Linked DNA regions of Homo sapiens: regions 2, 3 and 4 are each reported to be linked to region 1. The links are microRNA targets in miRTarBase. Many come from high-throughput screens and were not tested one by one. Region 1 holds a microRNA gene; each other region holds the end of a gene's coding sequence.

Region 1 (8,063 bases):
GTTATTTAGTAAATTGTATTTTTAAAACAATTTCAGTAATATTTCCTGCAAAACAAAGTTTTCACTCCTGTCTCCAGGTGACTGAGTTTGTTGCACCCAGGTGCTGCAGAAGATAAAGTCCATTCGCAGAGGAGCTAGGCTTCCTTATGTATTTCTAATTAATAAACATAAACCAGGAAAAATGTCTCCAGAAAAATATGCGTCAAATATGTATATTTGAAAAATAGTTTCTCAAGTAAATATGTCTGACACATAGTAAAAGTCCACAAGATATGAAATGGATGAGTGAACTAAGTTTTACATTGATAAATAAAATATCCAAGCCAGATTTTGATTAAAAGATATTTTATTTCCATTTCAGTACATATGATAATAGTTAATAGGGGCTGTATTTATTAATCTAAATATTTTCTGTCAAATAAAATGTAAGGGAACAACATAGTTGTTGAATGAAGAAGGAAAAAAAGCTCTCAACACAGGGGTATGCTTGCATGCTTCTGATAATTAGAATAATCTGATAATTGACTTCTTTCTCCCTTCACAGGAGGGTGCCAATTAAAATAAACTACAATTGTGCTTTTTGGTCTTTAGCATCAGAGCAGATGATGTTTGAGTTTATGGCCAGTTTTCTCAATGTGTTGTCCAATTAACCTCAATGGGAATGATTCACATCAAATCCCTGGGGTTCTCGATGAAAGGGAAAGTCAGCCAGGCTGCTACAGGGAAAACAACTTTTATATGTGCTCTAAAGCTCACTGGTGGGCCGTTCTAGTGAAAAACTTGTGCCAGTGGAAACGTTTTACTATTGAGGTAAAAGCCCCCCAGGGTTTCTTTGTATATCACTGAGGTAGAAGAGACTAACTATAAGTGACACAAAGGGAAACTGGGCATATCAGTCTTAGTAGAATCTGACTCATTCCATCAAAGAGCTGAGAAAATGTGTACAATTCCACACGAACTAAAAGAAGTCATGAAGGATCAAATCAGGGAAATGTATAAGACTTCCTGAGAACGGATGTCTGAGATGAATTGTTCTATCAGATACTGGAGTAAATCATTTATTAAACTTAAATATCTGCTTAATTTCCTAATATATTTTAAATATTCAGAGTTAACTGCAATTATGTTTCAGTCATCAGGATTAGCTAATAAGTAATCAATAATATTAACCCCCCAAAGCTAACTACACTAGCTTTGCAGCAAAATAAAAAGAAAATAATCACGTACAATTTTTATAATAGTTTAATATTTATGAGGAATTAATCCATTGACATCAAGGTGGGATGAGAAAATGTTCGGGTTCATACTAAGTTTGTTCACAGTAAGTTCTAGATTATTGAAACCCTTAAGATAATGGTGAACATCAGCCAATTACTGAATGTTCATTCACTCAACAAATAATATTGAGAATGATTGTGAGCCATGTAGTATACTTGACATACTAATTATTGTGAGCCATGTACTAAACTGGGGACAAAATGTTGACTGCCTTCAAGGAGTATTTACAAAATAGAGAAGAAAATGACAGATACATGGGCAATTAATACAAACAGAGATAAATATTTTGATGAGACAAATAACAGGGTCTTGTCAGAACACAGGAGGGACCAAGAAGAAAATAAAGAATTTGAATAACACAACTATATATATGTTTTAATAAATACATGGATAACTCTGAATCCAAAGAAGCATAAACTACTCTTTACAATGAGACCTATAGAATTGGAAGGCATTGATGACATTAGGCCACAAAGAAAATATCCATCAATCTGTGAATGATATCATACACGTATATTGGCTTAATATGAAGAATAAATGAAATTTTTAAACTTGGCCAAACAACCCATATTTATTCCCATACACACTTGTATGTATGTTTAAAGTTTGGTAATTTCTATGCATATCTGTGTACACTCATCTATATATGAAAAATAAGAGCCCTATGTATCAAATCCAAGAGAAAAATATCAAAGATATTCTCAAAAGACAATTTCAAACCTAATATGTATTTTTTAAAGCTAAAGATACCAAGAGAGGAGTATAGAACATTAAATTCTTGCTTTCAACTTTAAAAAGTTATGAAAATATTGAAAATATTTATTTTTATAAACCAGATATTGATGACCAAAGTAAAGAACGAGAAAGGTTAATTTATAACATAAACACTGCTTCTAACCAACTTTAAAGTCTTAAAAAACAAATATTTGCTTTTCTTAATCTAGACACAAATATGGGAAATAAGAATGCTTAGAAGCTGACATTTAACTTTATGCAAAACAGAATTAGCAAAGGAAAACAAACAAAAACTATAAAATAATCTCATATATGATGAAAATTTCATTTATGATGTTCAATGTGAACATGAATACAAATACTCACATTTTAAAATATATCAAATAAGTGCAGTAATTTTAAAATAATTATACTTTTTGACCAACTAGAGCTAATTTCTTAGGTTTAAAAAAGTAATTATTTTTTAAGAGATGGGTTCTCACTATGTTGCCCAGACTAGACTCAAACTCCTGGGTCTAGCAATCCTCTTGCCTCAGCCTCCCAAGCAGCTGGGACAACAGCTCTGTGCCACCACACCTAGCTATGTATTTTTTAAAAAGGTTATTTAAAACAAAATGTTACTGTAATTCAACTCTATCAACCACACCTGGAATAAAAAAATTTTCTTTCCTAAGGCACTTCCCTAATGCACTTCTACAAAAATTCGTAATGTCTCAGATCCAGTTAAAATATTTTCAACAATTGTTACTATTGATCAGCTCCTTTTGTATAGTGACGAATAAAAATTGTATTTATTTATGGTGTTCCAGATGATATTTTGCTATATCTGTCAAATCATTGTGAAATGGCTAAATCAAGCTACTTTATACATACATTACCTCACATACTTTTTTTTTTGGTAGTGAGAAATTTAAAGTGTACTCAGTAATTTGCAAGCTTATAGTAGATTGTTGTTAACTATAGTTATCATACTATACAATAGAATGCTTGAACTTATCTCTTCCAGCTGAGATTTTGTATCCTTTGACTAACATCTTGCTAGACCAATCCCCTAGCTTCTGGAAACCACCATTTTGCTTCTGTGGGTTCAACTTTTTTGGATTCCATATATAAGTGATATTATGTGGTATTTGTCTTTGTGTTCCTGACATTTCTCTCAACGTAGGTTTTCCACGTTTATTTATGTTGTCATCAGGAACAAGATTTCCTTCTTTTTTATGGCTGAAGGGTTTTCCATTGTGTGTATACAGTACATTTTCTTTTTTCATTGACCCAACATTTACCATGCTGAGAGAAGAAAGCAACTCCTCTGTTTAATGAATGGAATCCTCTAAAAACTTCAATACACATATATGAACTTTCAGAAGCATTCTCATTAAATTGGGAAAAACAGAAGGATGCCCTCTTTCACAGTGTCTACCCAGCATCATCTTCAGGATCTAGCCAATACAATAAATCGAAAGGAAAATTTATATATAGTTAATAAATAACCTAAACATATATTTTACAGAAAATATAATTTTTATTCCAAGAGTCAATGTACTCAGTTGCGGTAAAGCAAAGTTACAAGAATTCTATAAGGATCCAGGATCAAAACACAACAATTTTCACATACGTGTCAACTGTTAGGTTGGTGCAAAAGTAATTGTGGTTTTTGAAAGTAACTTGGCGAAAACGACAATGACTTTTGCACCAATCTAATACAATCAACAGTTGTGGGAAGAATTTTAACTTTTCACTCTATGTTTGTACTGTTTTAGTGTCTATGTGCATGTATGTTGTAGTTTATATGTAGGTATTACTCACGTAAAAAATTAGTTTGGTGCTTGCTTCAGCAGCATATATACTAAAATTGGAATAATATAGAGATTAGCATGGCCCCTGTGCAAGGATGACATGCAAATTCATGAAGCGTTCCATATTTTTCCCATGAGATAATTGTCTTCAGTGTCCTGGAGGCCCTCGAGGTGGGCCGGTTGGTAGAATGAGAGGCCCTCCCAGTGGAGGCATGGTGCAGAAACCAGGATTTGGAGCGGGAAGGGGGATTGCTCCACAGCAGTCAATATTCATGGATCTTCAGGCAGCCATACAAATCCTAGTTCCTACAGAATGGTGAATTTCTTCAACCAGCCATCGTGGAGTATGGCCCCAGTCTGTTAACTGCTTAACTTTGTGTGTTTTAAAAAACAGTCAACCTGGCTGCTGTGTGGAGAACAAATATAAGGAGAAAAAATGAAGGCAAAGGGATTTTAGATGGCTGGTTTAGAAGCCTATGAATTGGACTAAAGTGAAGGAAGACATGAAGATAGAGACAAGTGGGTGTATTTTACTTTAAAATTAGAATTGACATATTTTACTTATATGAGTGGTAAGCATGAATGAGTTATTAAGGATAACTCACATATCAAAAGGGAAACAATGGCATGGATGTTAAGGTTATCAGGTAGGCACAACCCTGAATACAGAGTTGTGATGCACTGAGGAGAAAACTAGGAATATCCTAAATATTTGGGAGTAGTTGACACACAGAGAGAAGGCAGAGCACAATCGGAGGGTTGAGAAATAGACATGGGGAAAACCAACTCTTCTTTTGTGATATGGACTAATGAGGGAAGCATGGCTACAGATGTGTCATGTTCAACAATGTACCCATTCTATGTGGGTACCCATAGAAGCCATACACATTAGAAACAAAGATGTTAACTGGTTAGAAGTACAGGTTTTGGAGGCAGACATGTCTGCTACCAGTATCAACATTGCTGCTTAATATCTGGGTTAGTGACTTGGGGCAACTTATTTAATCTCTCTAAGCGTTTGTTTCTTCATCTTTATTGAGAAGAATAATGCCGGTAGTATTTCCCTCATTATAAGCTTGTGAAGATCGCTAAATATATCACATGAACACGACAAATTATGGTCACTGATGCATAGGTAATACTCAGTGAAGGTTTTCTATGACTATTAGAGTTCTGTATGTTATTATTATGCAAGAAATCCACAAATGGTTATTAGTGTCCATTAAACCGTACATTATGAAACATAAATAAAACTATATCATATGTTTAACATTGTGCTTGGCCCCATTGAGAAAGTATAATAATAAATAAATTAATACTAATTTAATAGTAGTAAATTACATTTGAATGAATTGGAAAAGTAGAATAGTGCTGAGTAATTCAGGCTTAAAAACTTCCTATTCCATGATAACTCATTAAGTTAAAGACAACATATAAAATATTTACACACCTATTCCCAGGTGAGAGGCTGGTAATTTTATTAAAAATTTTAAGATTTTCTGGATAATGCATGAATGATGAGGAAACTTTTTTTTCTATTTGGATATAAATTTGGTTTCTTTTTATAATAAAATTTCAATATGTCCTATTGTCTTTTTTGTCTTAGCTAAATGGATTACTTCTATTTATAATTCCTCCAGAAATCAGTGAACTTTATCTTGAGAAATGAAAGATCAAATAGATGATATAGAGAAACAACTCTTTTACCTTCAAATAGGAAATGTAAACTGATAGGAGTCATTGTATTCCAGTCTTCTGGTCTGGAATAACAGTAACTAAATTCATTTGGTTTGTTACACATAAAAAAAGGAACAACTAGTACTGCTTTAGGTACTATAATATGTTTATCCACTTCATAATAGTTTGACATACACATCCTCTTGGTCCACGTTCAGATATTTGACTAACCCCTTTTTAATTTGATATTTCCTAGGGAATGAAATTTTTATTCATTTACAAATTCATTCAACTGACCCATTTGTATTCTGAACAACTGATTTTGTAATCTGAGTTCTATGTTTTCAATATCCGAATGTCATTAGTTTTGGCACAGTTTTACAGTGTTCATGCTCCTATATTCTTAGTAAGTGGATCTAACAGTTTAACAGTAACCAATATTCTGTTCTGCACGTTCATTCTCTTGCCATGTTATACTCTTGCTTTTGCAAGACTGTCTTATATTCTTGTGATTCCTAGTCTGTCATGAGCATTTTGCAGTTGAGGAAGTTATTTCCCCAAGGAGTTTCAAATGAGGATCTCTGTCTTTTAACTTCAAACATTACAAAAAGCCCTACGTCAAAATTTCGGTTCATTTCATGTAGGAATTGGACTGTATTATTTAGTGCTCTTGTCTTTTAAAGTTTAAATTATTATCAAAGTAATTTTAACCATTTGATCTCTTTTGTGATTTTTTTTCATTTTAGGTAAAATTATTTATTAATATCATTATTTCTTAAGTCATGAGTTATAATGTTCAAACTGCTTTAGATTTAAATGGAAAGAGGTAAGTTCATTTTCTGTATGTTTTTCTGACTTAAAGCAAACATTTTACTTAGAATAAAATAGAGCACCACTTTATCATAAGCATAGTTAATCTGACCCCCTCTGAATAAAAGAAAGCCTCATCGAAATTATGTTTATTAGGTATCATATTTTTAAAGAGTAAAACTGCCTTGGAGACAGGATCTCTGGGCTTGAACTTCACCTCTTTTTGTAATACCCTAAATTTTTCATAGTAATTATTTTTCTCAAAGCTTCAAACCAAATTACTTAAGAAAAAATATATTACTAAGATAATAATAATATTATGAATATTGTCCAGGAAAGCAAAATGTATACAGTATAGTCCTATTTTTTCTGCTGTTATTTAGTCATATGTCCCTGCCAAAAATCAATCTCTGGGAAGGAAGTTTTCTCATCTCTAAAGGTTTTGAATAGATGACTTCTAAAATTACCTTCAGATCCAAAAGCCTCTGATTATTTATTCAAGAAAATTGCTTGCTAGGTACAGGAAAATCACCTATTTTTTGAAAAAGATTTAGGAATGAGAATTATAGTGTTTCTTATAATCAACATTCTACTTTACATACAGTATTATCAATTGTTATTTCTAAATTATTTAAAATTTTTACATCGTTCCTAATATATCTATTCCAATTGAATATTTTTTGGATCACTTGTATGATTCTATGTTGTTTTACCCACTGTCTGTTAGTGTAAATTCTAGATAAAAGCAGGGTGTGTTATAATATGTATGAGGCATTTAATTTCCCAGTGTGGCTTTCTTAATGAGATTTTTTAATATTAGGAAATTAAGTGAGCTACACAAAATGGAATAATTTTTAGAGCACAGATTATTTATATTAAATATCACAGTACAAAATATATCATTACTTGTCATTATTACAGTGAGCACAAAATGCTTGCAATATACCAATGATCAGTTGGATGCAAACTTGAATTTTACCGAAGAATCTCACAGGAATGGAACTTCACCTCACTAAGCTACTCTTTTTCCTTAAGTCAGCTGTTCAAATAGTGAAATTATTATTACCCAATATGTCACTATGAATACTATTTTACAATATAGCTCCAACATCAATTGCTTCCTTCTTAAACCAACTCTTATTTCGCATTTCTTTAGGGCAATGTAATTTCTATGTGGGTTGCTAGTTATTTATATACAGACTGAGAATAAACAATCCCTTACCTTTGCTACTTGCAGAGGGTTGGGCGCGAACCAGTCTAGTGGGATGTTTCCAGGGGAGGCTTAAAGTAAACAAAATGGTTACTGGAACTCGCTGACATAAAGTTACCTCAAGAACCAAAGAGTAGCTACACACCAAAGAATAGAAAGCATTGAGGGTAAAATGAGAGAAGCAGGATTTCAAATGGCCACAGGAGGGTAAATGGTTTGAAACCAGAGAAAAACTAAAAGATAACAAGTTTGAAAGAGCCTGAAAAAAAGTAGGGAGTGAGAGAGAACAAGAACCAGTCCGGAAACAGAGTAAATGTGTCTTCTTCAGGGCATACCTCATATCAAATTGAATTAAATACTCTTATTAATATTGCTCAGAAAGTTCTAGTTTTAAGGCACAGATTGAGAATGAAAATTAGAGCTCCTTAAGCAACATGACATATTTGCCTACCAATCTTTACATTTGAATACCTGAGCTTGGCATATAACGTAATGAAGGACAATAAGTAAACAGAGAAAAATGGAAGGATGAACGGGGATAAAAGACACAGAAAGCA
Region 2 (8,063 bases), not on the chromosome of region 1:
AGCCAGAGGGCCACAGGCTGGGGACAGGAATCTGGCAAGAAATGGGGGTGTGACTAGCAGGGACTTGCTGGCTGTGTGACTGGAGCCAGCCAGCCTTCCCAGCACCTCCCAGGCTAAGGAGAAATAGGTGCCATCCGATGGGCTGAGCTAGCGAATGGGAGGGCAGGAGCTGAGGCCTAGAAGTGGGAGATGACCTGGAATATGCAAGGGGCAGGGAGGAGAGCAGGAGGCCTTGCTTGGGAAGGTTCGCCTAGGGGGTCATATAGGACAAGGAGAGGCTGGAAGTGGTGCCAGGATATACCAGGCTGAAGGGCTTGCTTTGTTGAGGATAAATCATTCATTCATCGATGTATTCAGTCAACATTGAGTTCCTCCTGTCTGTGGACACTTTGGGGTGGGGCTCACAGGAACTGAGTTGGAACCTGGTTCATCTCGGGTATGTGTGAAGCATCTGTGGGGAAGGGGATGGCGGACAGACCCAGGAAATAGCTGGATACACAGGAGTCCGAGAGGGACTGGTGGGAGTGGGGAGGAACCAGGAGCTTCCAGGTCTCTTGTAAGCCAAGAGGAGAGTTGAGTTTCAAGGAGGAGAAACAGCTGGGTCAGGCTCTGGGGGTTTGTGGGGTAAGAGATGGCTTGGGGAGGAAGGGGGCCCTAGGGGTGGGGCAGGGGATCGACAGAACTGAGCAGGACCCAGGGCAGAGAGAGGACAAAGGAAGGAGGAAAGAGCAGGGGTTTGGGGATCCTGGGGCTTGGGCACTGAGGGCTGCTGGGGGTGGGGACCAGAGGGAGCTAACCCACGGCCTGGGTCCCCCTGCAGTCTAGCTTTGGGGTCTGGCTGTTTGGGAGGTAGACTAGGGACTGAGCAGGGGTCCAGGCTCTGGAGTCGCACAGGTTTGAGTTTGAGCTCTGTGTCTTACCTTACTAGCTGCGTGACCTTAGGCAGAGGCAAGCTTTTCTGGGCCTCAGTTTCCTCATCTGTAAAGAAGTCTGTAGTAACAAACTCTTTGAGATGTGGAAATCTATGAGATAATATCTGTCAAGTGCTCAATATAGCATCTGTAAACAGTAGGTGCTCTTGAAGCACTTAGAGAAAACACCTGGGCAGCCAAGGAGCCTGGCTGAGTCTAGGGGCGCGGAATGGAGGACTCTGAGAACCCTGGAGTGGGCATGAAGGGGCTGGGGGCTAAGAGGCGAGAGCAGTGGTGGAGGCAAGGGAAGCAGCCAGGCCAAATGTGGTGGGGGAGTCCAGAGCCGCCTGACTCGGAGTCCTCTGGGCATCAACCTCTGATTTCCTCATGTGCCTCCAGAGTTCCCAGAAGTGAGGGTCACTCCTGAGGGGATGACGGCGTGGACGAGGAACAGCTGAGGGCGACAGAGGATCTAGGCTAACAGGAGAGACTCCAGGAGTGGGGGCAGATCCCAAGGCAGCCTCCTGCTCCCCAGTGGTGGGTGCCCCAGCTCTACCTGGTGTGGCAGGGCTGAGGCTCCATGTGCATCTGTGAGCATGCGTGTGACAGGTGCAGAGACGGGGGACTGGAGGGAGACTTTTATACGTTTTGTACCTTTGTAACCAGAGAGATGCTTATGTTATTTTTCAGCTTTTCTGTCTCCTGGGGGGTTTGAGGCTGGGCTGGGAGGGGGAGGGAGATAGAGGGAGAGATGCAGTTTGACCCCATTTGGGTCCTGAGCAAACCCTATGCTCATCTCTCTCTCCTTCCTGGGGTGGACTCAGATGGGTGGGACACATGCCTTCCTCCCCCTATTCCACCCCCAAGTTGATCTGAGTATCGTCAGGGGCCCAAAGTACAGAATTGTTCTTTGCTTTTTATTGAATGCTCCAAAGGCCAAACTTCTGGGGCTGGGGGTTGGTCTTGGAAACAGGGGTCCTCTGACTTCCTCATGGGGGCTTGCTCATACCGCCCCTCCTGGTGGATGTGTGTGTTTATTATGTGGAGTCCCTGCCACTTACTGCCTTATGACCTAGGACTGATGCTGTGGGGTGCTGGTGGAGCAGCTGATGTCGTGTTTACAGAGCAAGGCTTCCCTGTCTCCCACGGGGAGGGGCTCGGGCCTCTAGTCAGACATTCCTGCAGAGGGTCGGTGGAGGGGTCATTCACCTGCCCCTGCAGCAAGCAAAAGTTGTCTGTGGTGCCATTTGATTCCCTGACACTGCCCCCTGCTTGAATTGATTCCGAAGGGTAGGGTGGGAAGGTGAGCAAAGGGAGCAGAAACAAGGGAATTCAAGACCCAGAATGTAGGTGCCACTGCCTCCTATGTTTACAGGATCCTCCGTGGCCCTAGGCACCTGGGCTGCAGGAAGTGACTCCGTTCCACTCCTCCTTTATTCCCTTAAAAAGGGAAAAATGACTGTTACGACCCTGTTCACAAAACTCTTACTTTTGCTATTTTGTCTGCTGTCCAGAACTGAAGACTTTAAAATTTTGTTACTGTTTACAAGTCCAGATTCAAAAAATGTTTTTACTTTGTTTACAACTCAAAACTTTGAGTTTTACACTTTGTTTACAGTAGATAATTTTTTTTCCTTTGTTTCCAAGTGAAAGGTAGGGAAAGTGGGAGAGGGACTTGGAGGACCCACCTGTGAGGACCCTGACCTGGCCATCTTGAGGGGTTTTCTAACCCCCAGGTCTCCCAGGCCGAAGGTCAGCCTTGAGTCCCGTTTAACAGCAGATCCAGAAGACCTTGAGAGTAGGCGTCCTCTAACCACGGGGGAGAGTGGCTGTGCAGGGCTGGGGGGTGGTCTGTGCAGACACCTCCTCACCCACCACCCCATGCATACTCTTGGGAAGCAGCTTCCTGGGAGATTAGAAATTCTACTTCCCTGACTGGAGCTAAATCCCACCAGCCAGGACCCAAACTCTCCTTACCGAGAAGGACCCCAGCTCTTGAAGGGCTGAGTGGCCTGCTGGGGGTGGGAGGGTGTCTTTACTATGTCCTAGGTTTCGTAGATGCCCCTCTCTGGGGTTCCCCTCCTCCAGCCCAGCGGCCCTCTTTCCTGTCTGTGTAAATTGTTCCGTGAAGCCGCGCTCTGTTTTGGGAATAAACTTCTATAGAAAACAGTTGTTGCCTTTTCCTGTTGGGGGCTGGGGAGGTAGGATGGAAGCTGTGAATGATTCAAGCCAGACTGACCTTTGGGAGGAATCTGAGCCCCTCCCAAGAATATCCAGCTATTTTTAGCCCATTTCATGGCAGATCTCTTTCACCTTGAAATCTGGCCCCTCACTTTGTAATTGGGGCCTGATGTTGGAGCACAGGTGCTGAAAATAAGGTGCTAAGGAAAACCTCCCCGCTGGTCAAGGCAACGGCAACAGGACTTCCTAATTCTTCAGGGTCTGCAGCCCTGACCCGGCATTTTTTGCCCTCACCTGCGGTGAAACCAACCTGAGGAACTGCTCTTGCAGTTCCTGCCTTGCCCACCCAACAGCACTGACGCCCACCCAACAGCACTGACCCCCACCATTCTCCTCGGCGGCCCGCGCAGTAACCTTCTGGGAGCTACGTCCGGGCTGTGCTTAGTGCAGCGGAGGGGATCCTCCAACCATTTCTGGCCTGGGTGGCCAGAGTTAAAGGGGAGGACTTGGGGACCGTTGGCTCCGGGTCTCAAAGAGATGCGTAGTCGCAGAAAGCCTGCGGGTGGCGCTCTCAGCTGAAGGCAAGAGAGGCCCCACAGACCTGGATCCCCTACGAGTTAAGGCTGGGGTCACCGGCCAGTGGAGTTTCCTTTTCCCACTCCGTGAGCACCTTCCGCCGAGCCAGGACCTGGGATCAGCTCCAACCTACTCAGGGCCTGGGGGCGCGACTGCGGCCAGCCCGGCGCGGGTGCTTAGTTCCAGTTCTGCAGTCCCATCCAGCTCCGGGCAGAGGGCCGGGCGAGCAGCGAGAGGCCTCATAGGCCAGGTCGCCGGGGAGGAAGCGGTTAAATCCTCCTTCTCCAGTCTCTCCCCGCCCGGCGCGCGCCACTTAGGCCCCGCCCCAGCGCGCTGATTGGCCCAAGCCTCCCCGTCCTGCCCCGGGATTAGCCCCCGGGAGAGCGCAGCTGGCCTCACCCGGTCCCGGCGCCGCCTTCCGGAGCGTAGCGGCCTCTAGCTCGAGCAGCAGGAGCAGCCCGCACCGGACAACTTGCGAGCCATGGGGCTGGCGGATGCGTCGGGGTGAGTTCAGCGCACATTCCCGGTGGCCCCGCGCGAGCGCCTCGCTGGAGCAGGCATTCTCCGCTTGCGACGCCTCGCTGGAGCAGGCATTCTCCGCTTGCGACGCCTCGGTTTACCTCTGCTGATTTTCTGCAGGCGGCTGCCCCTCTGCAGCAAGGGGTGGGGGCGGGAGCCGGCGCGACCCCAGTCCCTTGGGCTGTGCGGAAAGCCGCTGGTGTGACGCCCGAGGGCCATCCCGGGCCACAGGGAGGCAGCTGCGTGCGGAGGAGCCCGGCCAGGAGATGTGCCGGCGGGGGTGCGTGGGGCACGGGAGTCCCTGGCAGCGGCCCGTGGACTAGCTGCTTTCAGCTGAGTCCCGAGTCCACCCAGCTCCACTGATCCCGGAGTGAGCGCTCCGGCCTTTCTGGCCCCAGTTGCCTTCCTACAGGGAGGGGCCAATGATCAAGGCTCCGCCCTCCAAACGCGGGTCCCAAGTTGTCGGGGGAGGGAGCCCTTTAAGAAGACCTGAGTGACTCACGTAGGAAAGGAGAGGGGGCTCTACGATCTCCTTGAGATAGCGGTCCCAAGAGTCTCTGAGGATCTTCCTTGCACCCACTCCACACTCCTCCAACAGTACAGCCAGGTTAGAGGCGCTTCCCAGGTGAGTTCCTGTCCCTCAAATGGGATCCTCTCCCCAGGTCAGGGCTTTTCCTAGATCAGAACTTTCCTGACTGGTGAAAGCTTCCCCAACAGGCTAGAGTTTTCCCCCAGGTAAGATCCTTCTGTGAGATCTATTCCCAGGTGACAGCTTTTCCCCATTCCACGTGGGAGCCTCGCCCGAGGTCAGAGCTTTCTCTATGGGAGAGTACCCCCCAGGTGAGAACCCTCTCCCTCTAGGTCTTTTCTTCCCATGTGAGATCTTTCTCTGACTTCAAGTAGGTGCCTCTGGGCAGAGGGAAGATTCCCCCTGTATCAGAACTTGCCAGGCTGATAAAGATTCCCTGGTAGGTCAGAGATCCCTCTAGGTGAGATTCCCCTTGAAAGCTTCTATTCCCAGGTGAGCTCTTTCCCCCACTTCAAGTGGGTACTTCCCTTTCCATGTGGGAGCCTCTCCCTCTAGGTGAGAGATTGCCACTCCAAGAGCAAGCTCCTTCTCAGGTGAGAGCCAGTCCTTGGCTTCCCCATAACAGGCCTGAGCCGTCTACAACCTGGACCCTGGGGCTGGAGGCCCAGGGGCAAGCTTGGCTCCAACACTTTCCTTCCCTTAGAGGGGAGGGTCTCATCTGAGGCCTGAGGCTTGGGAAAGGAGTTGCTTGAGGAGCTGGACCCCTGGTTTGCTGGACCCCTTCCCTGAGTGTGCTCTCAGCCAGCAGTGGGCTCCCGGGGCAGCTGGAGGAGGACCTGGGGACTGGAGAGGGACTGGGTGGGGGAGGGAGCAGCCTGGGACCTGGACTGGTAGAACACTCAGCACTGGGCTGCCACATCTCGGCTGGAGGTATAGCTAGTGCTCATCCTGCAGTCCCTACTTGGGGGACTTTGTCCTAGAAAGAGGCTTTCTCACCAGCCAAAGTTCAGGTACTGCCCCTGTCTGAGTTTGGACATGTGGCCCACAGATGCCAGCTGGGGGCTGGAATACTGTACCTTGATCTTAGGGCCTGGAAAAATCAGGTAGGTAACTCTCTGGTCCTAGGTGGAGGTGTAGGGGAGGTTGGGCCAGGGATGCCTTCACTGTGTCTCTCTGGTCTTGCCACCCCAGACCGAGGGACACACAGGCACTGCTGTCTGCAACACAAGCAATGGACCTGCGGAGGCGAGACTACCACATGGAACGGCCGCTGCTGAACCAGGAGCATTTGGAGGAGCTGGGGCGCTGGGGCTCAGCACCTAGGACCCACCAGTGGCGGACCTGGTTGCAGTAAGGCCAAGATTGGGGCCTGGGGGCGCTGGCGGGGCCCAGGTAGCCCCTGTTCCTGACACCTACCCCTCATATCATGTCCCTAGGTGCTCCCGTGCTCGGGCCTATGCCCTTCTGCTCCAACACCTCCCGGTTTTGGTCTGGTTACCCCGGTATCCTGTGCGTGACTGGCTCCTGGGTGACCTGTTATCCGGCCTGAGTGTGGCCATCATGCAGCTTCCGCAGGGTGAGCCACCTTCAGTGCGTCGGCCTGGAAACCCTGTGGTCTGTGATGCCCAAAACTGGGGCCATGACCTCTACCTTGGAACTATGGCACCTAACCCAGGGCTGGGATTCCCTTATCGTTTCAAGATCTGCTCTCCAGGCCTGCACTGCTACCATTCTACCCCTAGGCTTGGCCTACGCCCTCCTGGCTGGATTGCCCCCCGTGTTTGGCCTCTATAGCTCCTTCTACCCTGTCTTCATCTACTTCCTGTTTGGCACTTCCCGGCACATCTCCGTGGGTAAGTGGAGGCAGGCCTAGCCTTCCAGGAGGATGCCCACATCCATCATGGAGGGCAGGGTGAGGGGGCACTGAGCAGGGCAGGAGCGGCTGGGGAAGAGGGCAGCATTGGTGCTGCATCCCTGGGCTAGCCCACGAGTCATCCCCAGGCAGGACTAGACCCCTGACTGTAGGACCACAGAGGCAGGTGACCTCAAAGCCCTGGCTCCAGGAAGATGAGAGTGGGTGAGGCAGCCCAAGGGGCCTGGAACTTGGCAGAGGCCTGAGCAGCCTAAGGCCAGCCCTGACCCCTTCCCTACTCCACAGAGAGCCTCTGTGTCCCGGGACCAGTAGACACAGGTGGGACAGGGTAGATGAGACAGGGCCAGCATTTCTAGCCATGCTTAAGGGCCTGTGAGCTCAGGGTTTACTCCTGGCCTGGCCAAACCTGAACCGCCAGCACTGTCCCTGTTCATGCAGCCATAATCTGAGTACATTTATCCAGAACTGGAAGTCTCCTGGCCTCTCTCTTAAGACCAGGGCTCCAGGGCAGGGCAGTGTCCTCTCCTCTTCAGACCTGCCCCGTGCCGTCCTTACAGGGACCTTTGCTGTCATGTCTGTGATGGTGGGCAGTGTGACAGAATCCCTGGCCCCGCAGGCCTTGAACGACTCCATGATCAATGAGACAGCCAGAGATGCTGCCCGGGTACAGGTGGCCTCCACACTCAGTGTCCTGGTTGGCCTCTTCCAGGTGTGGAACAGTCAGGAGTATGTGCCCCCCACCACCACTTCTGCTCCCGCCACTGTCCTGTCTGTACTCCCCTGAGTGTCTGACCATCGTCGTCCTCCTCTTGCCGTCTACTCATCCCCCTCCCATCCCACTTGCCCTGCGCTCCTCATTAGCAACCCCAGGACCCCTGCCTCTCCTGACTGCCCCTGGCCGCCCCACAGGTGGGGCTGGGCCTGATCCACTTCGGCTTCGTGGTCACCTACCTGTCAGAACCTCTTGTCCGAGGCTATACCACAGCTGCAGCTGTGCAGGTCTTCGTCTCACAGCTCAAGTATGTGTTTGGCCTCCATCTGAGCAGCCACTCTGGGCCACTGTCCCTCATCTATGTGAGTGAGGGTAGGGGGAGGGAGGGGTAGGTGTGCCCCATGGCCTTGAGTGCTAGCTGTGACCTGGCCTCTCCTCAGACAGTGCTGGAGGTCTGCTGGAAGCTGCCCCAGAGCAAGGTTGGCACCGTGGTCACTGCAGCTGTGGCTGGGGTGGTGCTCGTGGTGGTGAAGCTGTTGAATGACAAGCTGCAGCAGCAGCTGCCCATGCCGATACCCGGGGAGCTGCTCACGGTTCGAGGGCCAGGGAGTGGAGGGCAGGGGAGAAGGGCAGGTCAGGCTGGGTCCTTGCCACGTGGGCAGCCTCCTGTATTTGAGGGCCAGCTGGAGGGGGGCTGGGAGGGTTCTTGGGTATTGTGGGGGGCACAGCAGAAAGCCCCTATGTTGGTTTCTTCCTGCCCCT
Region 3 (8,063 bases), not on the chromosome of region 1:
ACACTGGTGTGGTGGCACATGCCTGTAGTCCCAGCTACTTGGGAGGCTGAGGCAGGAGAATCGCTTGAACCCGGGAGGTGGAGGTTGCAGTAGCTGAGATCACGCCACTGCACTCCAGCCTGGTGACAGAGTGAAACTCCGTCTCAAAAAAAAAAAAAAACAAAACCAGAACCCCACTTTCTATCATATCATTGGCGTTTTGATTTTTTTCTTGTATTCCTTATTTTTCTTCTTTATAATTGATTTTTGTTTAGCAACTCCTCCCTGATTATGCAAGTTGCATAAGTGCAGGGAGTGCAGACTTGGTAGTCTAAATCATCCAGTGTGTCTGCATGGGTTCTTTAACAGTGCCTGGCAGATATAGGTTAATACTTACTTGATGATGAATGTTAAATAACTTAGTGAACAATTTTGGAAGATGGGCAGAGCAGATGGTTTTTGTGTATTTTTACATGTAGAGGGCCGGGCATGATGGTTTACACCTGTAACCCCAATATTTGGGGAGGCTGAGATGAGAGGATCACATGAGCTCAGGAGTTAAAGAGACCTGCCTAGGCAATATAGTGAGATCCCGTTTCAACAAATAATTTAAAAATTATCCAGGTGTGCTGGCGTGTGCTTATGTCCCAGCTACTTGGGAGGCTGAGGCAGGAGGATCACCTGAGCCTGGGTGGTTGAGGCTCCAGTAGGCCATGATTGTGCCATCACACTTCAGCCTGGGCTGTAGTGAGACCTTGTTTCAAAACAAACAAACAAAAACTTCATAGGGGATGGGATCTCACATCTGTTGTTATGAATAAGTAGTACTTTTCATATGATTTATACATCAAAAAGTATAAAAGATACACAGGATAGTCTCTCTCCTGGTCTTGTCTCCTAATTACTTCACAGTCATGTACCCTGTTTCCAAATTCTTATGCTTCCAGAGAACTTTTATGCATGTAAATGCCAACACACAGACACACACACATGCCCCTGTACATTTTAACTTCAGTGCCATCCATCGGTCCTTGGCATATAATGACTACTCCAAAACCTTTGTTAGATGAAAGGTAGAGTTTTCATATTTTCTGTATTTTCTAAAATATGCTAAGAAACACATTTTGTTCTATGAAAAAAATAAACAATAGATAATGTTTTATTGTTAATATTTTCTTTCTTGCGTTTTATGTTTGTTTTTAGCTCCCTGTGCTGTCAGGAATCTACAGGACTTGGCTCGTATTTACATTCGACGCACACTTAGAAATTTCATAAATGATGAGATGCAGGCCAAGGGGATTCCTCAAAGGGCTCCACCCAAAAGGAAAAGAAAGAGAGTTAAACAGAGAATTAACACTTACGTATTTGTGGGTAATCAGCTTATTCCTCAGCCTCTAGACAGTGAAGAGGATGAAAAAATGGAAGAGGATAACAAAGAAGAGGAGGAAAAAGATCACAATGAAGCAATGAAGCCAGAGGAGCCACCTCAAAATTTACTGAGAGAAAAAATCATGAAGCTGCCCCTCCCTGAATCTTTAAAAGCTTACTTGACATATTTTAGAGACAAATAACTTAGATCAAGAAGAAAAATGCCTACTGATAATTCCTTTAGTCTTGAAAATGTAGCATTTGTTAGGAGTTAAAAGAGAGAATTATTTCTTTCATCAGAGCAAATTATAGTGGAAAAAAAATCACTTGTTTCTGTCAGTAACACAAATGATGTATTCAGTGAATAAAAGAATCCCTTTTATAAAATCTATTTTTCTTTAAATCTTGGAAAAATGTTGTTTTAGCTCAGAGTGATTTCAAAGTGGAATGCAACAGTAGTCAAGACTTGTGTACTATAAATCCTTTTCTGATTCCTTACAGATTTGTAGTGATGAGGTTTAGATTTAATTTTATATATGGTTTAAATAATTGTTAAGCTTATATAACCTGATCTGAATTGCAGTTGTTTGCATTTCCTCTATGAAAACTTCATTTATCTAATAAGGAAGTCAAATGCTTTGTAGACTATTTACCTTACTTTTGTTGCAATCACTGTTGTTGGGTTGCTGTATATATATTCCGGGCAATATATGAGTGCAATAACAATACAAGATATTGAATAATTTAGCTTTAAAAAATCCCACAAATTTTATGAAATTTTACAGCCCTGCTACTTTTGCTTTTGAATCTCTTGCCAAAAGACATGGGTAAAATATCTGCCTCTCTCATAGAGATTTTAAGAGCACAGCAAGTGAATTATTAAAACAAAGTCTATACTTAATACAACTCTTTATATGGACCCTTTACATTTTCAGTATTTAAAAAAATGAGGTTATCTTAACTCTATAGAATTTTAAAAGTATATTTAGAATTGTTTTTTCTGTAGTTCACTGTATAAAGTATTTGGTTTTTTAAAAAAAGCAAAACCATTGTTATGTGTGACTCTTGATAGGACACAGAACGAGTGAATGAGCATGAGTGAGGCCACTTTCTTGGATGGCTGTAAGTAGCAGGGCCAGGGTAGACCTGGTCAGCGGATGCACTTTAGCAGATGGAACTTCTAGTTTATCTGAATATTTATCTTTGACAAGGTAGGGCTGAGCCTACATTTGCTTTTGATCTATCTAGTATAAGAAATATTCACAGAAATTGTATGTAGATACCCTTTGTTTTGAAAATGCTGTTCAGAATCATAGTGTAATCTTTGGGACCTATGCCATGTTCATTTCACTCCTTCCCATATTTTTTGTGTTTCTTTTGGTAAAACTATAATGGTTTTCATTTTTTACTTAATATCACACAGTTAAACTGTCCATATTTGAGCTTTATTTTAGCTTATCAGTGATAAAAAACAGGTAGTAACTGCCATTGTTTGTTTGTTTTCCTAATAAGGCCTGAAAACAGCCATTCCTTGTTAAGAAAGTGTACAATGTAACATATTTGCTAGAGTTACATGGATTATATATTTCTTAAAGGGAAAAATTTGAGAGTATCATGGACTACCACCAGCATTATTATTACAGTAGTTACTCAGATTTGGTTAAGGAAGCCCAAGCAATGTATAGTGAAAGGATTATTATCTCTCTGCTAAGATTCAGATATTGTTTCAGAAATCTCAGCTCCAGTAATTCCACAACATCTAAAAACAAATGTTTGTGATCATGTGTAAGCATGAAATTGTTCCAAGTAAGTGAGGATATTTTAGTTATGTGAAAGACAGTTTCATGGAAGGTATTTGTTTTATACCAGTGGCTGGGATGGTGGAATTGGGGTTATTTCTACAATTATTCTTAGACGATTACTAAACTGTTAAGAAATGCCCCATATCATTTTTGTATCTAGGAAAGAAAAAAATCAGTTTCATACTGTTGTCATCTGTCAGAAATGCTCATTTTATTTTGAATTAAATGTGGCTTTTGAAGTACCTAGTTACCTTGAATTCCTGGTGACCACATGTTTTTATCTGGAAAACCTGGAGAAAGTTATCTGTCCCATCTCCCCTGCTTGTTTTTTTTTTTTTTTTTGGTTGGAGCTGCTGTTTAGATGATGCTTTTACTATGCAGGAGAGAGTTTTTGTTAAGGATATATTTGAAGATTGGCTTTTCCATATTGTCCTTCATTCTTTGACCATGGCAAAGTGTACAGTAGATTTTCATGATCATTGCATATTTCTTGTCATTGAAATGTATCTTTTATGTTTTTAAATGCATTCATTTTACACTTGTGAGTTTATCATTGACTTTAAGAGGTAGAAATGAAAAATGAAAATTAAAGCTAAAGCCTTTTTATCTATTAATGCAGATATATTAGAATAAGAATATTTTGGGTTTGTGTTTATTTTTTAATGAATTTATGTTTACTTGATATGGAAAATTACGCTTTATAGGTGGAAAAGTAGCAAATAAAGATTAAGTAAAAGTAAGTGAAAATGATGGGGAATATAGTATTGGAATTTTATAGCTAGTTAAAACAGTAAGTATCATCTAATTTGGGTGTTTATTTTGCAGATGAGAAAACAGACCTAGAACCGTGGCATGTTTTGCCTGAAACATACAGTGAGTTAGAGACAGGGCCTAAGATAGCTTCTAGCATCAGATCAATCCCAAGAATCCATCAGCAACCTCAGACCAACCCAAGAAGATAATTTAAATCTATACTGCTTATTGGTCAATATATTTGGTTCTAGTATTAATAAAGAAAAATGTTATTAAAATAGCATACATAGTAGTAAAATAAAATACAAAAAGTGTGTTGATTTATAGCTGTTTGAGATGATAAAAGTGAAGCAAAGCCTGTTAAATCATTGGAAGACTTGGAAAATTATTTTAAATAAACAATTACATGTAATTAAGCATTTTTCTCCCATGGCCTGACTTTTATGTTTGTCTTCTTCTTTTTAAATTTAGGCAATCTCAGTACACCTATGGATATGCTCAATTATGGCATACAATTGTCTTTATTTGGACATCTCACTGTCTTTTGACTATTGCCACTTCTGAAGAGTATGGAAGTTTTTTAAAATTTATTTTTATAAAATAGGTAGGGAAATTTATAAAATATTCATGAAATATAAGAAATAATTTAGTGTACATGTAGGTACATGTGTGTGTACCCATTAGGTTCAACTAATAGCTTTACAGTCTCCTGTGTGCCCCTTCCCATCCACATCTTAATCCCTCCCTTCTCAGGAGGAGGGATTTTGTGTTTATCATAATCTGCCTTTTTGTTCTCAATCACCTGCCTGCATCTCTAAACAATGTATTTGGCTTCATATATGCTAGGATCCTACTGTACGCATTCAGCAGCTCTCTTTTTCACATTACCTTTCTGAGATTGCCCCATGTCGTATGTTGTTCTGTTACATTCACACTTCACAGTTTATTCTACTGTTGGTGGACATTTTTTGTTCCCTCGAATAGTTCAGTTGTGAACATTCTTTTATATGTCTTGTGACTACATGTGTGAGAGTCTGCTTAGGGTGTACATCTAGGAGTAGAATTACTGGGTCATAGGAAATCATTTCTATTCACTTTTACCTAGATGGTGCAAATTTGCTTCCCAAAATAGTTTAACAGTATGTTTCTTCTAGCAATGTCTAAATGTCCCAGTTATTCCACATCTTCACCTACACATGACAGACTTTTGCCTGTTTAGTAGTGTGACGTATCTTCTTAGGGGACTTTGTTACTTATAAAGGTTATTTATTAAGGGGGTTTTATCTTCAAGCGTTTCTTGGTTTTAGGATTCCTTTCTGCAAAGTGCTGTTCAAGTCTTCTGTACATTTTTTTATTGGGTAGTTTCTTTTAAAAAACTGTTTTGTGGGATTTCCTTTTGCAGTCTAGATATATTCCACTGTCAATTATATGTGTTGTAAGTATCTTTTCTCAGTTTATGGTTTCTTACTCTGTTTATGATGTTTTTTGATGAATTGACATTTTCAATTTTAATTGTCAGATTCATCTTCCTTCACCCTCAGTCTCAAGGTCATGGAAATATTAACCTATATTTTCTTACAGAAGGTCTGTGATTTTGCCTTTCACATTTAAATCTGCACAATAGCTGGAATTGATGTTTGTGTATGGTGAGAACTAATAGTCCAGTTTCTTTTTTTTACTTTATTGATCAACTGTTTGAGGACCATGTTTTGAAGTTTCTTTTTTCTTCTCTGATCTGCAGTGTTAACTTTATCGTAAGTTTTCATATATTTTTGCTATGTGTCTAGGCTTTCTTTTTTGTTTTATTAGTCAGTTTATATAACCCGTTGCCGACACTACACAATTTTATTTACTGGAGATTTACAATAATTCTTGATCTAGGAAGATAAATCCCTTCACTTTATATGCTAGGAGTTTCTTGAACCTGTAGACTGTAGACTTTAAATTTCAGAATTGGCTTCTCAGATTACATACATGCACACACACACACTCTTCTTTGGGAGTTCCTTGAGAATCACTTTGAATTTATAGATCAGTTTATGCAAGAATTAACATGTTTATGATAGGCAGTCCTCCAGTCCATGAATATGGTACTTCTCTTTTTTTTAGTTAGGACTTATTAAGTATGGTTTGGCTCTAAGATCTAATATCTTTTGTCAGATTTAGTTGCAGATATTTTATATTTTTCAATGATGTTGTAGTTTATTAAAATTGTATTTTATTCCTTTTATTGGTTTTTGTACATTGATTAAATCCAGTACTATCTCTTTTGATTCTTTTAGGTTTTCTGTATAGGAAATCATATATTTGAATAAATTTTAGACAGTTTTATTTTTTTTCTTCTGGGTTTTTTTATTTTACCAGATTTGCCAGCTGTGGCCTCCAGTGTAACTGAATAGTGATGAGCAAGAACAGCCTTATTTCTTTATTTTAATTTTTTAATTTTTCCATAGGTTATTGGGGAACAGGTGGTATTTGGTTACATGAGTAAGTTCTTCAGTGGTGCTTTGTGAGATTTTGGTGCACCCATCACCAGAGCAGTATACACTGCACCCTATTTGTAGTCTTATCCCTCACCCCCCTCCCGTTCTTCCCCCTACATCCCCAAAGTCCATTGTATTCTTATGCCTTTACAACCTCATAGCTTAGTTCCCACATATCAGTGAGAACATAGATGTTATCATGGTATTTGATTTTTCCATTTTTGAGTTACTTCCCTTAGAAGAATAATCTCCAATCTCATCCAGGTCGCTGCAAATGCTATTCATTCATTCCTTTTTATGGCTGAGTAGTATTCCATCATATATATATATATCTCACAGTTTCTTTACCGACTCGTTGATTGATGGGCATTTAGGTTGGTTCCATGATTTCGCAATTATGAATTGTGCTGCTATAAACATGCATGTGCAAGTATCTTTTTTGTATAACGACTACTTTTCCTCTGGGTAAATACCCAGTAGTGGGATTGCTGGATCAAATGGTAGTTCTACTTTTAGTTCTTTAAGGAATCTCCACACTCTTTTCCGTAGTGGTTGTACTAGTTTACGTTCCCACTAGCAGTGTAGAAGCGTTCCCTGATCACCGCATCCATGGCAATGTCTGCTGCTTTTTTATTATGGCCATTCTTGCAGGAGTAAGGTGGTATTGCATTGTGGTTATGATTTACATTTCCCTCATCATTAGTGGTGTTGAGCTTTTTTGTCACGTTTTCATGTTTGTTGGCCATTTGTACAACTTTTTTTTTTTGAGACAGAGTCTCGCTCTGTCGCCCAGGCTGGAGTGCAGTGGCGTGATCTCGGCTCACTGCAAACTCCACCTCCTGGGTTCACGCCATTCTCCTGCCTCAGCCTCCCAAGTAGCTGGGACTACAGGTGCCTGCCACCGCTCCTGGCTAATTTTTTTGTATTTGTACATCTTTTGAGAATTGTCTATTCATGTCCTTAGCCCACTTTTTGATGGGATTGTTTTTTTCTTACTGATTTAAGTTTGTTGGAGATTCTGGATATTAGTCATTTGTTAGACATACAGATTGTGAAGATTTTCTCCCACTCTGTGGGTTGTCTGTTTACTCTGCTGACTGTTCCTTTTGCCATGCAAAAGCTCTTTAGTTTAATTAAGTCCCAGCTATTTATCTTTGTTTTTATTGCATTTGCTTTGGGTTCTTGGTCATGAAATCCTTGCCTATGCCAATATCTAGAAGGGTTTTTCCGATGTTAACTTCTAGAATTTTTATAGTTTCAGGTCTTATATTTAAGTCCTTAATCCATCTTGAGTTGATTTTTGTATAAGATGAGAGATGAGGATCCAGTTTCATTCTCCTGTGTGTGGCTAGCTGATTATCCCAGCACCACTTGCTGAAAAGGGTGTCCTTTCCCCACTTTGTTTTTGTTTGCTTTGTCAAAGATCAGTTGTCTGTAAGTATTTGGGTTTATTTCTCTGAGTTCTCTATTCTATTCCATTGGTTTATGTGCCTATTTTTATACCAGTACCATGCTGTTTTGGTGACTGCAGCCTTATAGTATAGTTTGAAATCAGGTAGTGTGACATCTCCAGATATGTTCTTTTTGCTTAATTAGTCTTGCTTTGGCTATGTGGGCTCTTTTTTGGTTCCATATGAATTTTAGAATTGTTTTTTCTAATTCTGTGAAGAATGATGGT
Region 4 (8,063 bases), not on the chromosome of region 1:
AAGAACAAATATGTCCCTTATTAGAGGGCCTCTTTAGATGTTTAGGGTACTCACAATCCTTGCCAACCTGATGTCCTTGGAAGCTCCAGTCTGGCTGTAAGGAGATGATGAGGGGTTCTGTGTGTTGGAGGTGATGACCTCATTGAGTCTCAGCCACAGCAGGGCATTATGCAGGAAAGAATTCAATGGAGTTATTTAATACCTTTCCCTATTCCCACAAAAATCTGGAACTGGGTTCTGAACTGAGAAGTCTGGGTTCCCTGAGAATTGGACATCAGTTCAACCACAGGAAGCCTCTAAATTTAGCACTCTACTCACAGAGGGCCAAGAAAAATTCACAAATGTCACAAACTTAGGAACTTAGGTATCTAGTCTTCTCTGTCATTTTGTAATGAGAAACTGAGGCCCATAGGTAAAACATCTCACCTCCAGTCACACAGGTAAGTACATGGCAGGGCAAGGACAGGCACCCAGTTTTCCCAAGTCCAGTGGCCTTTTCATGATACCCATTTCTGTGTATCATTTCATTGATTTCTGTGACAGCTGGCCCTTTGCCCCTCATCACCAAATCTTAACTCTTTGGACTTTAATAATGTGCAAAATTAAGAGGAAGTCTGGCATCGGGAGCTTTACACAACTCAGAGAGAACTGAGGAAAGTAGTTAGCATGTTAACTGTGCCTCACCTTGACCTGAAGTGAAGAGCACTCACCAAGCCACAACCTGCTATCTGCACACCCCACACCATGAGGTAAAGGACAGCCAAGGAAGAGAAAGGAAAGAAAAGCAATCCGGCAGGGAGATCAGGGAGCGAAACGAACAGAGAAACGAACAGAGGTTTTTTCCAAGGGCCTTCTATTTTTCTACAATCTCCACACATTCAGTACTGAGACACATTAAGAAGGGCCCACTGAGGCCATCATTCACCCTACTCTCGGGCTGCTTCCATCCTCCAGGCTTCTAGAAGTTGAGAAAGTATGAGCTTCATTGTTAATTATATTACAGAAAATGGGACCAGCTGGGTTGCACCCACTCCCCTGTGTCTGGACCTCCTGCCTATGTAGCAGAAAAGGATCTTTCTGCTGAATTAATATTCACCTCAGAGCCCTGGGAGATGTCTGATGAAAAGTAGTTTTTGAAGAGTCTTGTGACAACCAGCAATTTCGGCAAAGCTATGTCCTCAAGAGTCTTCCAGATTTCCCCAACTCTACAGAATGCTTTTCTTTTTAAATACCATAATCCCATAATCTTTCTCAAAAATTATAAAACTGTATTTTATTTTTCTCATTTATTTGGGAGTTTGGTAAGAAACGTTTGGGAAGAAATGCTTTTATGGAGAAACTACTCAGATTTGAAACTACCTAGTTTATACTACCAGAAGACAGAGATTCAGGTTAGCTAGTTTGCTAATCCTCACAGTTTCAGAGATATGCCTTGTATTTTTCCAGATTATAGGCTTTGAGGACATTCACCAATAGCATCCTCCTCTGAATGTATTTTGGTCCTTTTGCTAAGCTATGTCTTATTTTATAGTCCTCCAAATGATGATCTATGACTTCTCTGCCTGCTCATTAGAGGAAGAAAAGCTCAGATGCATTGCTAACTATTATTTCAATGCCAGTGGAACTGGAGAAATGCTTGAAAAAGTAATCTCAGGTTGTAAAAAAGAACTATCTTTTTTTGGTTGCAGGAGCTAGAACCCTATTATTCTGAGAGTAAATTTTCTATTATTCCTATCTAATTCATTTTCTTGGGAGATGAAACTCCCTCTTTTTTTTGGTGGGGAGACAGGGTCTCACTTTGTCACCCAGGATGATGATGATGGAGTGCTGTGGCACGATCACGGCACACTGAAGCCTCGACCTCCTAGGCTCAAGCGATTCTCTCACTTCAGCCTCCTGAATAGCTGGGACCACAGACACACACCACCTTACCCAGCTAATTTTTTGTATTTTTTTGTAGAGACAGGGTTTTGCCGTGTTGCCCAGGCTGGTCTCGAAGTCCTGGGCTCAAGCGACCCGCTCACCTTGGCCTCCCAAAGTGCTGGGATTACAGGTGTGAGCCCCTCACTGCTCCTGGCTCCCTCATTATTATATTTCCTGAAGTTGACATGATTTGGGTCCTTTACTTAGAAATTGTCATCACACAATTTCAGAAAGGTAAAGAAATCCATTTTTATTGGCAACTTTGGGCTATGCTTCATCCTGGCAAAAATTTAAAAGCAGTACACTTCGACGTGGCTCACTTTCCTGCACACCTCAGGCAGCTTGTACAGACTATCCAAGAAAAAATGAGGAGGAAAGTGCTCCATCAAGGAAGAGGGATGAGATGGGAGCATAATTCACACACTAAGAACTGAGTTCTAAAGTCACTTGAGCTTTCTGGAGCTCAGTTACCTGTAAAACAAGGAAGAATGAATGGTCTTTATGGAAAATGAATGGCAGAATAAGTGATTTGTCAAGTTCATTGAACTATAAATTCCATTTTTACTGTCATTTATTTATAACAAAGTTCAGATATAAAGAAAAATCTGAACATACAGTAGGCACAGATAAACCTATAGCAAATATTCACATGTGGTTTGAATGCATTTATTAATCTCTGTACTTATTAGAATTAATAATAATACTAAAATGATTTGGAGAATTAATGATTAATAACAGTGGAAAATAGCCTTCCCATTATTGTTAGAGGATGGTGCCATCATGATGCTAAATGCCTATCTGAGGGGAAGCTCATAAATATTACTTGACAATATTACTTGATAAATATTTGTTGAAAAAAGAAATGTAGTAAAGAAGCAAGGATGGCTGGGCATGGTGGAGCATGGCTGTGGTCCCAGCTAACTTGGGATGCTGAGGTGGGAGGATTGTTTGAGGGAAGCTGAGTTTGCAGTGAGCCAAGATTGCACTACTGCACTGCAGCCTGGGTGACAGAGTGAGACCCTCTCCAAAAAAAGAAAAAAAAAAAGAGAAAAAAAAGAAGCAGCAGCAACGAAAGGAGGGAGGAAGGGAGAAAGTTTACTTTGATATGCCATATGATTGAAACAAATGCTCTTTTTTCAAAGACAAGGATTATACTCCTTTGCATTCCAGCTACTTTGGTCCATTGTAACTTGGTAACCTTTGCCTTGAAAACAAAAAGAATCCCTGGATATAATCTCCTTCCTTGTAATTTTTTTTATAAGATGCCAGTATGGTAATAGGTCCATTAGCAAGTAAGTACAGGCACATCTTATTTTATTATACTTCTCAGATACTGCATTTTTTACAAATTGAAGGTTTGTGGCAACCCTGCATCAAGGAAGTCTGTTGACATCATTTTTGCAATAGTATGTACTCACTTTATGTCTCTGTGTCACATTTTGGTAATTCTTGCCATATTTCACACTGTTTCATTATTATCTCTGTTATTAAAATCTGTAGTCAACGATCTTTGATGTTGCTATTATAATTACTGGGGGCACCATGAACCACACTTATATAACACAGTAAACTTAATAAATGTGTGTATGTTCTGATTGCTCCAACAACCAACCTTTCTCCAATCTTTCTCCTTCTTCTCAGGCCTCCTTAGTCCCTGAGACACAATATTGAAAGTAGATCAATTAATAACCCTAAAATAGCCTCCAGGTATTTCAAGTGAGAGGAAGTTGCAATCTTTCACTTTAAATCAAAAGCTAGAAATGAATAAGCTTAGTGAGGAAGGTGTGTCAAAAGCTGAGACAGGCTGAAAGCTAAGCCTCTTATGCCAAACAACCAAGTTGTAAATGCAAAGGAAAAGTTCTTGAAGGAAATTAAAAGTGCTACTTTGTGAATGCATGAATGATAAAAAAGTAAAACAGCCTTACTGCTGATATGGAGAAACTTTGAGTCATCTGAATAGAAGATCAAGCCAGCCACAAAATTCCCTTAAGCCAAAGCCTAGTTCAGAGCAAGGCCCTAACTCTCTTCAATTCTATGAAAGCTAAAGGGAGGTGAGGAAGCTTCAGAAAAAAAGTTTGAAGGTAGCAGAGTCTGGTTCATGAGTTTGAAGAAAAGAAGCCTTGTGCATCCATAAAAGTGCAAAGTAAAGCAGCAAATGTTGATGTAGAAGCTGCAGTAAGTTATCCAGAAGATCTAGTTAAGATAATTAATGAAAGTGGCTACACTAAACAATAGATTTTCAAAAGAGATGAAACAGCCTTATATTGGAAGAAGATGCCATCTCAGACTTACGTATCTAGAGAGGAGTAGTCAATGCCTCACTTCAAAGCTTCAACCAACAGGCTTACTCCTTGTTAGAAGTTAACGCAGCTGGTGATTTTAAGTTGAAATCAATGCTCATTTACCATTTCCCCAAATCCTACGACTTTTCAGAATTATGCTAAATCTAATCTGCCTGTGCTCTATAAATGGAGCAACAAAGCCTGAATGACAGCATGTCTATGGACAGCATGGTTTACTGGACATTTTAAGCTCACTTTTTGAGTCTTACTGCTCAGAAAAAAAAAGAATCTTTTAAAAATATTGCTGTTCGGGCCGGGCGCAGTGGCTCATGCCTGTAATCCCAGCACTTTGGGAGGCCGAGGCCAAAGTCAGTAGTTCGAGACCACCCTGACTAACATGGTGAAACCCCATCTCTACTAAAAATACAAAAATAAGCTGGGTGTAGTGGTGGGCGCCTGTAAATCCAGCTACTCAGGGGTCTGAGGCAGGAGAATCACTTGAACCCCGGAGGCAGAGGTTGCAGTGAGCCAAGATCGCACCACTGCACTCCAGCCTGGGTGACAGAGCGAGACTCCATCTCGAAAAAAATATATATATATATAATATATATTATATATTTTATATATGTATATAAAATATATATATAAATGATCAGTTCCAGACCACTATAATATATATATATATAGCTGTTCACTGACAATATACCCAGTCACCCAAGAACTTGGATAGAGATATACAAGGAGATTAATATTTTCGTGCCTGCTAACACAATACCTATTGTGCAGCACAGGAATCAAGGAGTCATTTGCACTTTTCGTAAGACTATAACTGTCACAGATTGTGATCCCGCTAATGGATCTGGGCAAAGCAAATTAAAAACCTGGAAAGGATTCACCATTCTAGATGCTGTTAAGAACATCGTGATTCATGGGAGAAGGTCAAAATAGGAAGATCAATGAGTTCGGAAACTGATTCCATCCCTCATGGATGATTTTAAGAGGCCCAAGACTTCATTGGAGGAAGCTCTGCTATAGACATAGTGGAAATAGCAAGAGAACTGGAATTAGAAGTGGAGCCTGAAGATGTGACTGAATTGCTGCAATCTCATTACAAAAGTTTAATAGATGAAGACTTGCTTCTTATGAATGAACGAAGAAAGTGATTTCTTGAGATGGAATCTACTCGCGTAAGTTGCTATGTACATTATTGAAATGACAACAAAGGATTTACAACATTACATAAATTTCATTAATAAAGCAGCAACAGGGTTTGAGAGGATTGGCTCCAATTTCAAAAGAAGTTGTACTACTGGTAAAATGCTATCATACAGCATCACATGCTGCAGAGAAATCTTTCATGAAGAAAAAGTCAATCGAAGTGGCAAACTTCATTGCTGTCTTATTTTAAGAAATTGCCACCATCACCCCCAACCTTCAGTAACCACCACCCTGATCATTCAGCAGCCATCAACATCAATGCAAAAAGATTATGATCATTAGCAATTTTTAGCAATAAAGTATTTTTAAAATAAAACATGTACATTTTTTGGACATAAAGCTATTATACACTTAATAGACTACTAAAGAGTGTAAACATAACTTTTATATGCACTGAGAAACCAAAAATTTTGTGTGACTCACTTTATTGCGATATCCACTTTATTATGGTGGTCTGGAACTGATCCTGTAATATCTCCATGGTATGCCTGTGCTGTACAGGGGGTAAAGTGTGAGGGGTCAAGAATTTTCATGCCAGAAATTCCATAGCAGCCTACTAGAACTCTGGAAGTATCGCCTTTGGCTGCAGTGCCAGATTCTGGTGAGGATTTCCTGGACCCCGATTTATATCTGAAAAAACACTAAAAATAACAGAAGCAGGGCAGGAAGTGGCTATGATAACAAAGCTGGGCTTGGTACTTTCTCTGGCTTTTGTGGCCAATATTACTGGACTCCCGTGGTATCAAGTTTCATAAAAGAAACTCATACAAAGCAGAGATATCTTAATTATTTTCAGACTGGCATTTCAAAAAGTGTCAATTTAAGTAAGTATTATAAGTTATTTGTTCTTTGTTTTATCTTTTCAGATGTTTCTTGAAAACATTGTGGTGTGATCTTTAACAGAGTTTTCACTTACCAATTAATACAAAAAATAAGAAAAAGCTTTAAATACATATTTTATAAAATTTTATATGCCAAATAAGGTCCTTCATATAAGAAAAGGAAAATAATATCAATTTTCAGTACTATTATTTAGCACTAGAGCCCCTCCAGTTAGAAAAACAATTCTTTTAAATGTCTTTATGATTTGAGGTTTCAATAATAACTCATGAATAGGTGAAAGTTTGCTATTTATTTAGTCTTAGAAAAACACTGAAAGAAAAAGGCAGGAAATGTAGTACGCAGTGTGGAAGAATGGAGCTGGCCACATGTAGTTTTAGCAGCTGCAGAGGAAACTGGCTGAGTCTAAGGTTACATATTTCTGCTCAGTAAGGGTATCCATGGTGATAACTCTCATGATGACGGTAGTCATCCTGGTAACCATCCTGGTATCCTTGGTGGTAACTATGGTAACCATAGCCTGCATACTCATCTTCTGGGCAGCGCATCCCCAGTGACTGCTGAATCGCCATTTCCTGTCTCCGAAGTTGCATCGAATCAATTAAATCGTACACAATCACCATGGACCACATTGGGGAAGGATACCAGGATTTGACATTTCCGTCTTTTCCGACTAGAAGCATGGAGAAGTACTCCGGGCTCACTTGAAAATAGTTACGAATGTCTTTCACCAAATGGGCTGGTACGTCTTCTCGCTCAACAACAGAGCTCCCTAGAATAACATTGGAATAGTTATTGTTAGTAGATTAAACAGTCAGAGCCCATGAAAACATTAAAGTGTGAGGAAATTACTGTGAGAATAGGGAGGACCCATGAGCCTCTTCTCTTTAGTTCAAAATCTAATTAAAGAAGTTTGCTGGGGCTTTTTCTACTAGAAATTAAATGTCCCTGCTTTCTGCAACACGATTAGGGTCAAACTTTGGGGCACTCGATGTGTCTTTTGTAGGAATGTTACAAAGTATAAAACCAATTCCTTAATTTAATCCTGGCAAGACTAATTTCTTTAAAATTTGTCACTAACAAGGATTATATAGTTTATCTTTCTAAGTTTATTTCCAATTAGCTTAGTTACTTCTCTGTAACTACAGCTTACCTTTTGACACATCTTAATGATAAAAAGCTTATTTCATTGTTAAAAGTGAAAATATCAATTCTGTTAAGATCTAGAGGAATATTTAAACTATTGTGAATAGTGAAAAGAATAGAGGGGAAGGAGAAAAGGAGCTGACACTTTCAAGTCTGCTGTGTCCGGCATTCTGCCAAGTATTTTACACACATTATTTAAAGAGCTTGGTCTTGGAAGAAAGGACTGGATTTGCTTTCTGAAAACTTCAGTCAAGAGTCTTTTTTTGTTTTGTTTTGTTTTGTTTTGTTTTGTTTTGTTTTGTTTTTGAGATGGAGTCTTGCTCTGTCACCCAGGCTGGAGTGCAGTGGTGTGATCTCGGCTCACCGCAATCTCCACCTCCGAGGTTCAAGCGATTGTCCTACCTCAGCCTCCCAGGTAGCTGGGACTACAGGCGCATGCCACCATGCCTGGCTAATTTTTGTATTTTTAGTAGAGACGGATTTTACCATGTTGGCCAGGCTGGTTTCGAACTCCTGACCTCAAGTGTTCTGCCCACCTCGGCCTCCCAAAGTGCTAGGATTACAGACGTGAGCCACCATGCCCGGCTTCTCTGAGCCTTTTAGTGTATGTGTCTTTCAGCTTCTCTGAGCCTTTTAGTGTATGTCCTTATCTGT

What was found. The annotated mature microRNA hsa-miR-548ae-5p reads AAAAGUAAUUGUGGUUUUUG and lies in region 1 at 3,651-3,670, shown strand. An mRNA with a match to its seed (bases 2 to 7 or 8) in the 3' UTR can be bound and repressed. Matches are read on the target gene's strand: a 7mer-m8 pairs with bases 2 to 8, a 7mer-A1 pairs with bases 2 to 7 and ends in A, and an 8mer does both.
Region 2: the mRNA of CELSR3 is a reported target of hsa-miR-548ae-5p. Seed matches in the 3' UTR shown: 7mer-m8 at 2,397-2,403 and 7mer-m8 at 2,482-2,488.
Region 3: miRTarBase lists PCMTD1 as a target of hsa-miR-548ae-5p. Seed matches in the 3' UTR shown: 7mer-m8 at 2,002-2,008.
Region 4: miRTarBase lists CCDC80 as a target of hsa-miR-548ae-5p. Seed matches in the 3' UTR shown: 7mer-A1 at 5,719-5,725, 7mer-m8 at 4,064-4,070, 7mer-m8 at 3,831-3,837 and 7mer-m8 at 1,642-1,648.

Annotation. Positions count from the first base shown.
Region 1 is chr2:35,467,770-35,475,832 of GRCh38, forward strand. MIR548AD (microRNA 548ad) reads left to right here and starts at 3,636; the gene lies at 3,636-3,717. It also overlaps the pseudogene RNU6-1117P.
Region 2 is chr3:48,631,480-48,639,542 of GRCh38, reverse strand. It overlaps CELSR3 (cadherin EGF LAG seven-pass G-type receptor 3), which reads left to right. Exons shown (of 35, transcript NM_001407.3): 35 at 1,311-3,080. The coding sequence ends at 1,338. It overlaps SLC26A6 (solute carrier family 26 member 6), which reads left to right and starts at 4,082. Exons shown (of 21, transcript NM_022911.3): 1 at 4,082-4,172; 2 at 5,908-6,066; 3 at 6,153-6,292; 4 at 6,459-6,569; 5 at 7,147-7,298; 6 at 7,499-7,663; 7 at 7,742-7,894. The coding sequence starts at 4,150. It overlaps MIR6824 (microRNA 6824), which reads left to right and starts at 5,845; the gene lies at 5,845-5,907. RefSeq lists silencers at 3,874-4,153, 4,544-4,643.
Region 3 is chr8:51,813,838-51,821,900 of GRCh38, reverse strand. PCMTD1 (protein-L-isoaspartate (D-aspartate) O-methyltransferase domain containing 1) reads left to right here. Exons shown (of 6, transcript NM_052937.4): 6 at 1,183-4,318. The coding sequence ends at 1,550. Among named protein-coding and RNA genes, the nearest start is that of PXDNL, 8.4 kb to the right of the region's middle.
Region 4 is chr3:112,598,729-112,606,791 of GRCh38, forward strand. CCDC80 (coiled-coil domain containing 80) reads right to left here. Exons shown (of 8, transcript NM_199511.3): 8 at 1-7,035. The coding sequence ends at 6,689. Among named protein-coding and RNA genes, the nearest start is that of CCDC80, 38 kb to the right of the region's middle. RefSeq lists an enhancer at 5,160-5,329.